Regions from separate parts of the Homo sapiens genome. Here region 2 is linked to region 1. A link means that fine-mapping ties the variant in region 1 to the expression of a gene that starts in the linked region. Tissue or cell type: monocytes after LPS. Region 1 holds a variant in brackets; the other region holds the start of a gene. All regions are shown on one strand. Distances are between the middles of the regions.

Region 1 (6,035 bases):
CTTAGTGCGGTCTATTAAAAGAATTAAAGGTTATGTCAAAGGACAACTATAAGAAAGTACTTTGGTTCTGAATATTGCTTCAGCTAGGGTTTATTTTGAAGCTCCTAGCCCAAATTTGTAGAAATGCAACTAAGATCTAATATTTAGTGTGTAAGAACTTTACAGGACATCCAGTCAGTAGTAGTCTTAAAAGTGAATCACATAGGCTGAAGCAGGCAGATCACCTGAGCCCAGGAGTTCAAGACCACCCTGGCCAACATGGTGAAACCCCGTCTCTACTAAAAATACAATAATCAGCTGGGTGTGGTGGTGGGCACCTATAATCCCAGCTACTCAGGAGGCTGAGACAAGAGAATTGCTTGAACCCGGGAGGTGGAGGTTGCAGTGAGCTGAGATCCTGCCATTGCACTCCAGCCTGAGCAACAAGAGCGAAACTCCGTCTCAAAAAAAAAAAAATGTGAATCACATACATAAACATTGGGAATTTGCAGATAACTTTCATTTTAGGGTTTCTAGAGCGCAGTGGTGTAATCTTGGCTCACTGCAACCTCCACCTCCTGGATTCAAGCGATTCTCCTGCCTCAGCCTCCCAAGTAGCTGGGATTACAGGTGTCCACCACTATGCCTGGCTGATTTTTGTATTTTTAGTAGAGACGGGGTTTCATCATCTTGGCCAGGCTGGTCTCAAACTCCTGACCTCAGGTGATCCACCCGCCTTGGCCTCCCAAAGTGCTGGGATTGCAGGCATGAGCCACCACACCCGGCCCACTTACAGGATTTTTCTCCCCCTTCATGGTTGTATAAATGCAGTACTTGGCACATAGGCAAACCTGAACAGTTTGCAAGTTGCCTACCCTTTTCTACTTTGGATAAAATAAACCTCTTAAAATAGCACTTAACATAGTAATATATGTATATTAATAGTAGTTACTTCATGTTTGTTGAATGAATGAATGAAAAAAGTAGCAAATCTACATAATATAAATCCCAAGACAGCCAGGAATTTTATCTGGACCTAATTGTCTTACATAGCACCAATTGGTACTTAATAAAAACAAGGCTGGGCATGGCAGTATGCGTCTGTGGTCCCAGCTACTTGGGAGGCTAAGGTGAGAGGATCGCTTGAGCCCAGGAGGTTGAGGTTGCGGTGAGCTGTGATTGCACCAAAGCACTCCAACCTGAGTGACAGACCCTGTCTCAAAAATAAAAATAAAAACAATTAGTTATAACTCAGATGTTGCTATCTAAGGTAAGTAGTAATTACTATAATAAACAAGCTATATATTAACATCTTAATTTTCTTTCCTCTGAACTTTACTACTGTAGGTGTGTAGTGAACTTCATACAAGTTAATCTTTTTGTAGCTCTATTTCTTCATTTCTGTTTGTTCATCGGTTGGAGAAATTTTGCTTAAATTAATGAAAGTAAAAATACAGATATTAATGGCTCATAAATGTGCACAACCCACTTCATCTATAGTAAGTAAAAGTGGCTCCCATTTTGGGGTTTGAAAATGAAGAAGATCTGAATTCACAGAGAGGAGGCACGTGTAGAGATATGAGAAGTTCTTTTCCTACTCTACTTTGGTACATTGGTCTCTAACACATGTTCTGAGCCTCAGAACACAGTAGAACAGAACCTTCAGAAAGTGTTGAGAGTATAACTCTTTAAAGAGGTTTAGTCAGTCTAAATTATTTGAGGGCATCATCTTTATTTGGTACTTAGAAGTCTAAAATCTTCCTGATTGTTGTTAAGGTTACAAAGAGTCTGTGTATTGTTGGTTAGTTGAGCAGTAAATACCTTTTTATCATTGTTAAATGGGTTGTAAATAAAATATTTTTCTTCAGTGTTAAAATAATTTATGATCACAATATTTAGATAATAATAATAATAATTCTGTTATTTATGATATGTAGTCTTATCCTACTGCCACTCCCCTCTTCTGCTCCACATACTACTAAGTATGACTTGGTCTCTATAATACGCACTAATTATGAAGTTTTTTACGGAGAAGGAAATTCTTAATATAGACTAGGATTTTTTTTCAGTTGTCTTTTAATGGCCTTTTATTCTAGTAAACTTAGATTTCTTATAGACATCGGTTTATTGTGCCGAGCTCAGTAGCTCCTAGAGGGAGTATAAATTTAGGCAAAGGAATCAAGGAATAAACTGGTATTGTAGAAGAGATGGGAGAAAAGGAAATTTTTATTTTTGCTTTAAATTACTAAATCATGATGTTTCCTGTCTCTCAGTGCTTACCCCAATCAGTGTTTCTCTCTTTTCTTTTTTCCTTTCAGTCCCGAACCCCTAAAATTCTTTGCTTGCATTAACTTGCTTCAGATTATAAGCCTAATTTTACTGTTCCAAATACATGAACTTTTCACTGTATCTCCAAGTGCTCTTTTAGAGTTCATCTCTTTGTTTTCCAGTAACTCATATTTGTTTCTTCTTATGCTTAACACTTCTCTCTC[A/ATT]TTTTTTTTTTTCATGTTTCTCACATTTTTTCTTTCCACATTATCTGCTGTAGCAAACTTGAAATATATGCTTTTGGAGAAGAGTAAAAACAGTGTTTAGCCATATTCAGGTTATTAGCAGCAGCTCCTCTTTCTTCACATATACTTAAAGGGACCAGAAAGTTATTTAAGCTCTTACTTGCTACAAATGCTGTTCCATGTGCTCCTATGAGTCAGCACAACAGGTATTTTTTTTTTTTTTATTGTACAGATGAGAAAACTGAGACTTTGAGACATTCTATGAATTGCCTGAGCTAGTTGGCAGCAGTGCCAGGATTCATAGAAATTTGGAGCAGGAAGACAACACAATGAAGATTTTACTTTGAGGAATTTAGGGTTCATCTATGTAAAGTGATTTTTCTGAGGTCACTAATTATGTTGTAGGCTAGAACTCAAGTCTCCTAACTCCTAATATAGTGCCTTTTTTTTCTTTTCTTTTTTTATTTTTTTAGGAGATGGGTCTCACTATGTTGCCCAGGCTGGTCTTAAACTCCTGGGCTCAAGCAATCCTCCTGCCTCAGCCTCCCAAAGTGCTAGGATTACAGGTGCAAGCCACCGCACCTGGCCTCTAAGAGTGCTTTTTCCTAGCATACTTTTCTTCTCCTAAGGTAAAAGGCTGTTTGTCATGGTACAGCTACGGTGATTTTACTTGAGATATTTGACTTTGAGATGGAGATGAAGATAAGTATATAATGCAGCTGCCACATTCATTCTCATACAAGGTAAAGTCATTCAAAAGATAAATCGAAGAACTATAGATGTATTTAAGAAGAAATTCAGCCTATATGTAACAACAAAATTTTGAATAATCAAGTTCAGAAATTGGATTTTTAAAAACTTATTAGCTACTTTAACCCTTTTGAAATATTCCCAAAAAGTGTTTTCTCTTCCTGAGTTAAATTTATTCATTTATTGACCTATTAAAGATTTTTTTAGTGCTTCAGAGCTATTCTGTATATCTGTTCATTTTCGTTATTTAGTAGTATATAGAAGTAATAGATTGGGCTGAATAGATTTATTTCAGGATATATCTTAGATATTTGTGTTTTTTCATGAATCCCAGTTTAAGGGTTATTGCTTTCAAAAGGAAGAAATTTGGTTAGTCATGACTTTTGGCTAGTTGAAGTTTAGAGAAGTGCTTTATACAGGATCTTTTATTTAGTGAGAAAAAAATAACTTTTTATAATTTTATAATACTGTGTGAAAAACCTGATACCAAAACTTCTGAAAAAGAAACCAGGCCTAGGAGATGAGGATTCTAGGGAAGATTATTAAATTGAGGATATTTTTAAGTTAGATTCTAAATTAGTAAATCGTGGCTAATAAGATGAAAATAATCTGATCCTTTAGTAAGATCTGAAGTAATATTGTTGCCCTGCAAAAAAGTGGTTGTTATCAGCATACCTTATATGTCAGCCTAAGCAAGATTAGATTTTCTCTTTTCTCTGATAGATGCCAATATTTAACATTGACTTTTATCTACTTTCAAAAATATCTATGAAATATACTTTCTGTCTCTGAATTAGAGTGTATGTATATTTGTGTTTACTTGAAATGTTATAGCTGGATGATAGATTTCAGAGCAGTTTTTATGCTTAGGGAAGCCACTGCCTCCCAAAAAGGTTTTCTTATGAGAATGAGGAAAATAAGTATAAATTTTCATATTTATGTTATTACTATTGATGTGCTTGGATAATTGTATTTATAAAAGTAAAAAATGTTCAGTATTTTATCTGAAATTTAATAATGGATATTGTACAGCCTAAGGAATTAAAAGAAAAAGGACCCTTTGAGAAAATGGCTTGTTCTTATGTATCTTAATATATACTGTGTTCACTTTATGTTTTGTCAGACACTGAAATTGAGGAAGAGAGATTTTGGCGTTCTGTTGGTTTATGGAGAGAGTTGATCAGAGATTGCTCCTTGGCTGAGTTGCTGTCTGCATAGGCTGTTAACAATTGTTTCTCTGGCAGCAGATCTTGTTCATCAGGATTGCATCATTTCTGGGAGAATGGCCAAGGTCCACAGCCTCAATACAAAGACTGTCTGAAGCATATGAGGCCTGTTCTCTTTCTGAAGCGGCACTCCTCTTCCTGCCAGTCCTCTTCACAGGATTACTGAAGCAGACTTGTTCTGAATTTCTTTCGTTGGATTGGTTGTTTATTGGACTTTTGTCTGCCAGCTGCTTCCGCCTCACCTGTCTGATGCAATTTCTTCTTCTGAAATCTGTTGGAATTGTTCATAAAACACTTTTTGTTTGTCTTCTCTGTGAGTGACCAGGGAGATCATACAGGTCTTGTGCTTTCAGCAAGTCATATAGAGAAGAGACTGTCAGAATGATGATACAGAGACTGTTGGCCATTTCTGAAACCAATTAAAAAGATGGGGTAATTAAGAAACATTTCTGGCATGTTCTATTTAACATCCTTTTCCCTAGAAACTGTATGTAAATGGCACCTCCTAAAGAGAGTACTCGGTACTACTGGAAGATACAGGCTGTGTCTGTTTCTGAATCCAAGAACTTACTAGTGTTCCTGTGGATTCTGATGGATTGTTCTGGAAATAGTTAAATTAATAATAAATTGAAACTGTGATGCATTCATTTACCCCCTACTGTACACTCACATCTATTTCGCTGTTTTCCTCCTTTCCTTTTTTTCTTTCTTATTTGCTATTGCTTCTTCCTTGATTTACTTTATTTCTTCCTTCCTTTTACTGTTACTTTGATACTTTTATTTCTCTAATTCTGGGTGTACTATTTTAAATCGTTTCTAAAAAATAGTTTATTTTCCAGTTTTTTAAAATTAGAAATCATAAAACATCAACATAAATGAAATGCATGCGTTCTAATGCTTGGTAACTGGAATCCTATGAATAGCTCTTTTCATGTTTATGATATGTTAATCTTTAAGGTGTTAATAACTCTGGCTAGCGTTAAATTTGACTTTTAGGAAAAAACACCAGAGACTTAAAGGATACTGATCATTTTCCCTTCCTTTTTGGAAGGTAGAAAATTAATTTAAGCGCCATTTTTTAAGCATGTTTCCATTTGACCGCAAATAGAACTGACTCCTTTTTATCACTCTTTTTTATAGTAGGACAAGAAACTAGATGGTGTGGAATGAAGGGAAAGAAAGGAGTAATAAATATGGACTTGTAATTTAATGGGTGATGATGGCCCCTTGTCTGGCTGGACAGTTGTCGGACATCGGGTTAAAGAAAGAACTCTGAATTTGAGAAGTGTTCAGTGAAGAAGGGAAGCACCTTTTAGGAGAGAGAAAAAGAAGGGATCCCTTGGAAAATGAGATAATTCTAATTTGAAGGAAGAGGAAAAATTAGCCAGTGACATAAGTATTTACCATTTAAGTCAAATAATTTCCTTCTCTACCATCTCGTTTCTGGCTTTATGGAAAAATAAAAAATTAAAGGGCAAAAAATTCAGTGCCGGATGGACGTAGGGTGGTAAACGAGATAGTATAGATGTAGGATGATAAACAAGACAGTATACAGAAACATAATATAGCT
Region 2 (5,449 bases), 23 kb before region 1:
GACACCAGGCTACCCAAGATCAAGAGAGGGAGAAAGCTAGTGCTATGTCTGAATACTAGAGGAGCAAGTACAACAAATGGAAAATGGGATCAAGTATGAGTGAGAGTTGCTAAGATGCCTGGTAGGGATGCAAAGGGGTAGAGAGCCTGGGGAGAGAGGGTGAGGGAGGGAAGCACTGGTTTCTCAAGCAAAAGCTAAAATTTTTCTATTAAGATTTAACCTGATGCTACACTTTGGTGGTGCAGCAAGGGTCTCAAATGGTATAAAACTCAGGTGATCATGCTTTATGTCTGTCTCTAGAAAAATGCTCCAAAAATGATAAGTAGTGATAATCCGCAGTCTCGTTGCATAAAATCAGCCCCAGGTGAATGACTAAGCTCCATTTCCCTACCCCACCCTTATTACAATAACCTCGACACCAACTCTAGTCCGTGGGAAGATAAACTAATCGGAGTCGCCCCTCAAATCTTACAGCTGCTCACTCCCCTGCAGGGCAACGCCCAGGGACCAAGTTAGCCCCTTAAGCCTAGGCAAAAGAATCCCGCCCATAATCGAGAAGCGACTCGACATGGAGGCGATGACGAGATCACGCGAGGAGGAAAGGAGGGAGGGCTTCTTCCAGGCCCAGGGCGGTCCTTACAAGACGGGAGGCAGCAGAGAACTCCCATAAAGGTATTGCGGCACTCCCCTCCCCCTGCCCAGAAGGGTGCGGCCTTCTCTCCACCTCCTCCACCGCAGCTCCCTCAGGATTGCAGCTCGCGCCGGTTTTTGGAGAACAAGCGCCTCCCACCCACAAACCAGCCGGACCGACCCCCGCTCCTCCCCCACCCCCACGAGTGCCTGTAGCAGGTCGGGCTTGTCTCGCCCTTCAGGCGGTGGGAACCCGGGGCGGAGCCGCGGCCGCCGCCATCCAGAAGTCTCGGCCGGCAGCCCGCCCCCGCCTCCAGCGCGCGCTTCCTGCCACGTTGCGCAGGGGCGCGGGGCCAGACACTGCGGCGCTCGGCCTCGGGGAGGACCGTACCAACGCCCGCCTCCCCGCCACCCCCGCGCCCCGCGCAGTGGTTTCGCTCATGTGAGACTCGAGCCAGTAGCAAGGGCCCGGTCCCACAGCTTCGACAGCCAATCAGGTGTCGAAGACAAGCAGGCGGCGGGTAAACCGACTCCCCCGAAGGAAGGGGAGGGTGGGAGGACGCCCGCGCCAGAGCCGATTTCACTGACCCTCCCCTCCCGCCGCAGGAGGCCGGCCGCGCCCGCACACCCAGCATCTCTACACCCCACCTACCTACCCGCCCCACCCAGGGGGCAACGCGAGAGTCGCTAAGCGGCTGCGTACTCCCGACGGCGTAACTGACAGGAGCTTTACTCCAACCAGAATACGCCATTTGTGTTTTCACACACGGCGGGAGGAGAAACGGCCAATCGGCGACAAGAGGCTAGCCGGAAGCGCTCCTCCCTCTGCGAGAGCAATGGCTCCGTCCGGTTTCGAGCATTTTCCGCTCCCTTCTCCCTCCCCCTCCGGTTGCCGCAGGGCGGGCCTCCCTCCCGCCTGCATCCAGCCACCCCTTTCCCTCCCAACGTAACAAACATTATGTTCCCGACTTCCCACGGGAAAGGCAACCCCCGCAAGCCACCAGACGGCCCCCCTAGCCACCCATCCCCCCAGTGTACCGCACCTCCCCTCCCACCAGAGTTCCGCTCCCCTACCTAGCCGAGGCTCTCTGAGGAGCCGGAGCGCCGAAGCACAGCCTCTTCTCTAGGCGGCCCCGGCGGCTTCCGCTGATTGGCGGCGAGTGGGCCAATGGGTGCGGGGCGGTGGGCGGAGAGGCCAATGGCGCGGCGGGAGGGGGCGTGTCCCGGGTGCCCCTGGCGCCGGCGCTGGGAATCCCCGTGCGGTCAGTGGCGTTTCCGCTCGGGCAGCGGGCTGAGTGAGCTGCCGCCGCCGCCGCCGCCGCCGCCGCCGCCGCCGCTGCCGGGGGAGGGGCGGCCGCCGCCCGCCTGCGCTCAGAGACTCACGCAGCCCCAGTCCCGCCAGTCCGCCAACACAGTAGTGCCGGCCCCCCTCTTTCCCTGGCCCTGCCCCCCCTCCCCGCCTTTGGCTCGCTCCGCCTTTCTGCCCCCCACCCCCACCTCACGGGTACGGGCCATTCCCGGCCAGGAAACGCCGTGGCGCCGCGTTGGGCCTAACTCGAGTCCTGCCGCCTCCCGGGAGTGCCGTGCGCCGCAGCCCGGGCCCAGGCCCCGGCAGCGCCTGGGACAAGGTAAGGGTCCGACAGAAAAGAGACCGAACCTCACGATCGGGCCCCAGGGGAGGGAAGGGTCACCTCCTCCGTCTCCCCGCGCTCGCTCTCCTTGGGTCGTGGGCCTGGCCCTCCCCAAGCTCTTAGGAGGATGCTGCCACTTCTCACCCCCCTCGCCGCCTTGCACACACCGTTGCAACACCCCATTTTCCCAGGGAGAGAGATCCCCCTCTAATCTAGGCGACCCAACTCCCCCTTTCATGTTTTTCCTGGGTCAGGACGCTTCCCCTCCCCCAACGCCTCTTCACCCCCTTTCCTGGGAACTGCCTACTCCACGTTTACCTTTCCCTTGAGGAGAGGCCTCTTGCTGCCCTCCGCTCGAAATACACAGGCATACTTTTTTTCTCTCCCCGATCCCCCACTCCCTACCCCCGTTCTCGCGGCCTTGTGACAGACAACTCTGATCGCTCTGGGGGCCGCGATCTCCCCTCCGTAATCTTCCTGGACGCCTTCCCTCTCGTTTTCTGGCTTCCCACCTCAGATGGCTGCTTCCCAAAGGCATTACCTTCGCCACCCCCACCACACGTTCTCTGGCTCCCCGTGGCGTGTGCCACAGCGTGTCTGAGATAGCCTCGTTGAATGTGTAGGGTTCGAGCCTGGAGTTGAGCCAGATTGTGTCGTTTTACTTGCCTTGGGCGTGGAGAACGATCTTGTGAGAATATCTTCAAAGGCAGAAAAATATTCCCTTTATGAATTCTCTTTCCCTCTGCGTGTAAGTCGGGAATGTGAAGAGGAGTGTAGGAAAGAGCCCTGGTTCAAGTAGGTAAATCGCATGAGAGGGAAAGTTAAACTGTTGGGAAAGCCCCTTCTATGCTAATTGATTCTATAGAGTCCTTGCTTGTCTCACTTCTTGGGCGTCAGTGGTCTTTCTCTTGGATATGGATGCTGCAGTCAGCTCTGCTGGTCTGGGTCAGGGGTGCGTGTATGACCTGCATTTTCTGCTTTCTCATGTTACTTGTGCAATGTATTCACCGGTAACTCATTTCTTTCCCAGACCTCTGGGTTCCACTGGGCTTTGTCTATATTTAAGTTCATTTCTCCAGTTTCCTTCCTGCACATAGGTACTGAACGAATCCCCAAGTTCTGTGCTAATTACCTTCATCAGTTGACTAAACAAGTTTTTAGATGACATATTTGTGACCAAGGTCATATTTACATTTCTTTGTTGGACAGATGTTACATAGCTATACTTGTGATTGGGGAGGATCCAGCTGAGTGGAGTGTGCTGAGCTTTTTAGGAGAGTGTGTACTCCCTATTTGAAATTATTTTTTGGTTGTTAATTTTATATTATTAATGTTTTTAGGTCACAGAAAGTTCTAAGTGGTAATTTTAGATGTGTGGGATCTGAGCTAGGACTAAAGCAGAGAATACCCACGTAATCAGAGGTTTCTGGGCTCCATAGAGGACGTAGGGCTTTTTTTTTTCTATTGGATTTCTTCCAGTTTTCTCAGGATCATTAGTTCTCTTCTGTAGCCAAAAATTCTGGCCTGTTATGGGATTAGAGTCTTTAAGGTTTACTCAGACTGTCATTATGTGTAGAAAAATGAATTATGCCCTTTGGTAGGACATGACACAAGGCTCTGTTTCTAGCTGCAAATTTAAATTAGATTGTAGAGTGCTTGGGAAATTGGCTTTCAAAAGACCAAAGCTTAATCTTCACTCCTAAACTGCTGGCTTAATTAAAATGGATATTTAGAATTTGGTAAATGTTGATTTTTCTAATAAAAGGCCTTGGTTTAAAAGGGTGACCTTAGGATTGTTTCTTTCTTAAAAGCATAATTCCAGCCCTTCTGGCATGGAGCACTGGTCCAAAAAAAAAAAAAAAAAGTGTGTGTAAGGAGTGGGGGTGGGGTAAAGAGAAGGTTGTTCCTTTGGGTTGGATCACAGGGGTGAGTATACAAGGCAGCAGCAGCTGCTGGCTCTGGAGCTCTGGTTGCTACGTGAGAAGCTTGAGTAGTGCTGGCTGCTGTCTCCAGGGAAGGACAGCAGTGCAGCGTCCATTAATGCTGCTGGCTGCAGGGAGCAGCACTTAGGCGATGGCTGCTTCAGGACTAAGAAGAAACCTTGCTTTTCTGGGAATTTTCACTGCTGAGCTGGTTTGCTTTTTATTGGTGGGGAGATGGGAATTAGTAATTCATAATCTCCTACCCATTTATGGATATTGGCATCTGGAAACTGGATCATGGTTAAAGCCTTTCTTTTTTTGTTTGTTTGATTTGATTTTTGTTTTTTGGCAGATTTTTGTTTTTTATCTAGACATTTGTGCTTGGATAGGACTAAAAGTTCCATTAGAGTTTTAATTTTTCAATCAGTTTAAAAACCCAAGTAATAATTTTAAGAATCTTTCTGATAACCACAATAGGAAGAAAATAACAGGAATTTTTTCCTGCAGCTCACATATCATGCCTTCCTCCATCTCTTTAATCATAGAATCAATTCTTATTATTTTGTTATGTGTCTCCATCCTTTCGATTAGACCACATTTACCTTATAGACGATTTGCTAAACATTTTACTAAGCTTGAACTCTTAAACTCTAAAAAGGTGCCATTTTGGAGTGGTTTCTAAATAAATATTTTTAATTTGTATATTAGTAATAAACTTCTCCAGATTAGATATTTTCTTTGGAGTTTGACTTATAAGATTGATTCATTATATACATGTTGGATATAGCCTTCTGACATCACAAATATATGTCTTTGGCCATAATCCATCTGAAATGTAGGACAGACCAGAAGAAATATGCAGAAATCGAATAAGTCTAGTTCAGGATACTGAGAAGATGGCCTCTGAGCCCCTTAGGTGATCTCCCCTCCCCCACAACTCCTGAACATTAGGATGATCTCTGATTAAGCAAAACAGTCTGAGCGTGGAAAAACTTGAAGGAGAACCACCACCACCAATTATATGCAATACTGGACATATTCCTGTGTGCTGTTTTTCTTCCCCAAGACTCGTGTATCCTATACTTTTTTCTCTCAGAATTTTGATTTGTTCATTTTCGTGTAAATGTACTTAAATCTCACAAACATCTATAATTTGTAGTATCACTCTGGCATTTGTGGCAGAGAACCAAAAAGAATGGAAATGAGTTTTGTCATTCACAAATGTGGCTCACATTGTTTTCCCAGTAATAAAAGCAGACCAATGAA

Alleles and levels. Positions count from the first base shown, and alleles are read on the strand shown. Sizes are in standard deviations (SD) of each study's normalised expression.
With allele ATT in place of A in region 1, the expression in monocytes after LPS of the gene that starts at base 1,896 in region 2 is lower (moderate effect, 0.70 SD a copy in Quach 2016).

What was found. PIP is the estimated chance that this variant, and not a neighbour inherited with it, causes the effect.
Region 2: it holds the start of SETD5, and the variant in region 1 is fine-mapped to the expression of SETD5 in monocytes after LPS (Quach 2016, PIP 0.95).

Annotation. Positions count from the first base shown.
Region 1 is chr3:9,418,361-9,424,395 of GRCh38, forward strand. All of the region lies in intron 1 of SETD5 (SET domain containing 5), which reads left to right. Among named protein-coding and RNA genes, the nearest start is that of SETD5, 24 kb to the left of the region's middle. The variant A/ATT (reference allele first, on the strand shown) is at 2,472.
Region 2 is chr3:9,395,720-9,401,168 of GRCh38, forward strand. It overlaps SETD5 (SET domain containing 5), which reads left to right and starts at 1,896. Exons shown (of 23, transcript NM_001080517.3): 1 at 1,896-2,258. THUMPD3-AS1 (THUMPD3 antisense RNA 1) reads right to left here and starts at 904. Exons shown (of 4, transcript NR_132781.1): 1 at 841-904. RefSeq lists a silencer at 794-2,103 and an enhancer at 2,714-2,763.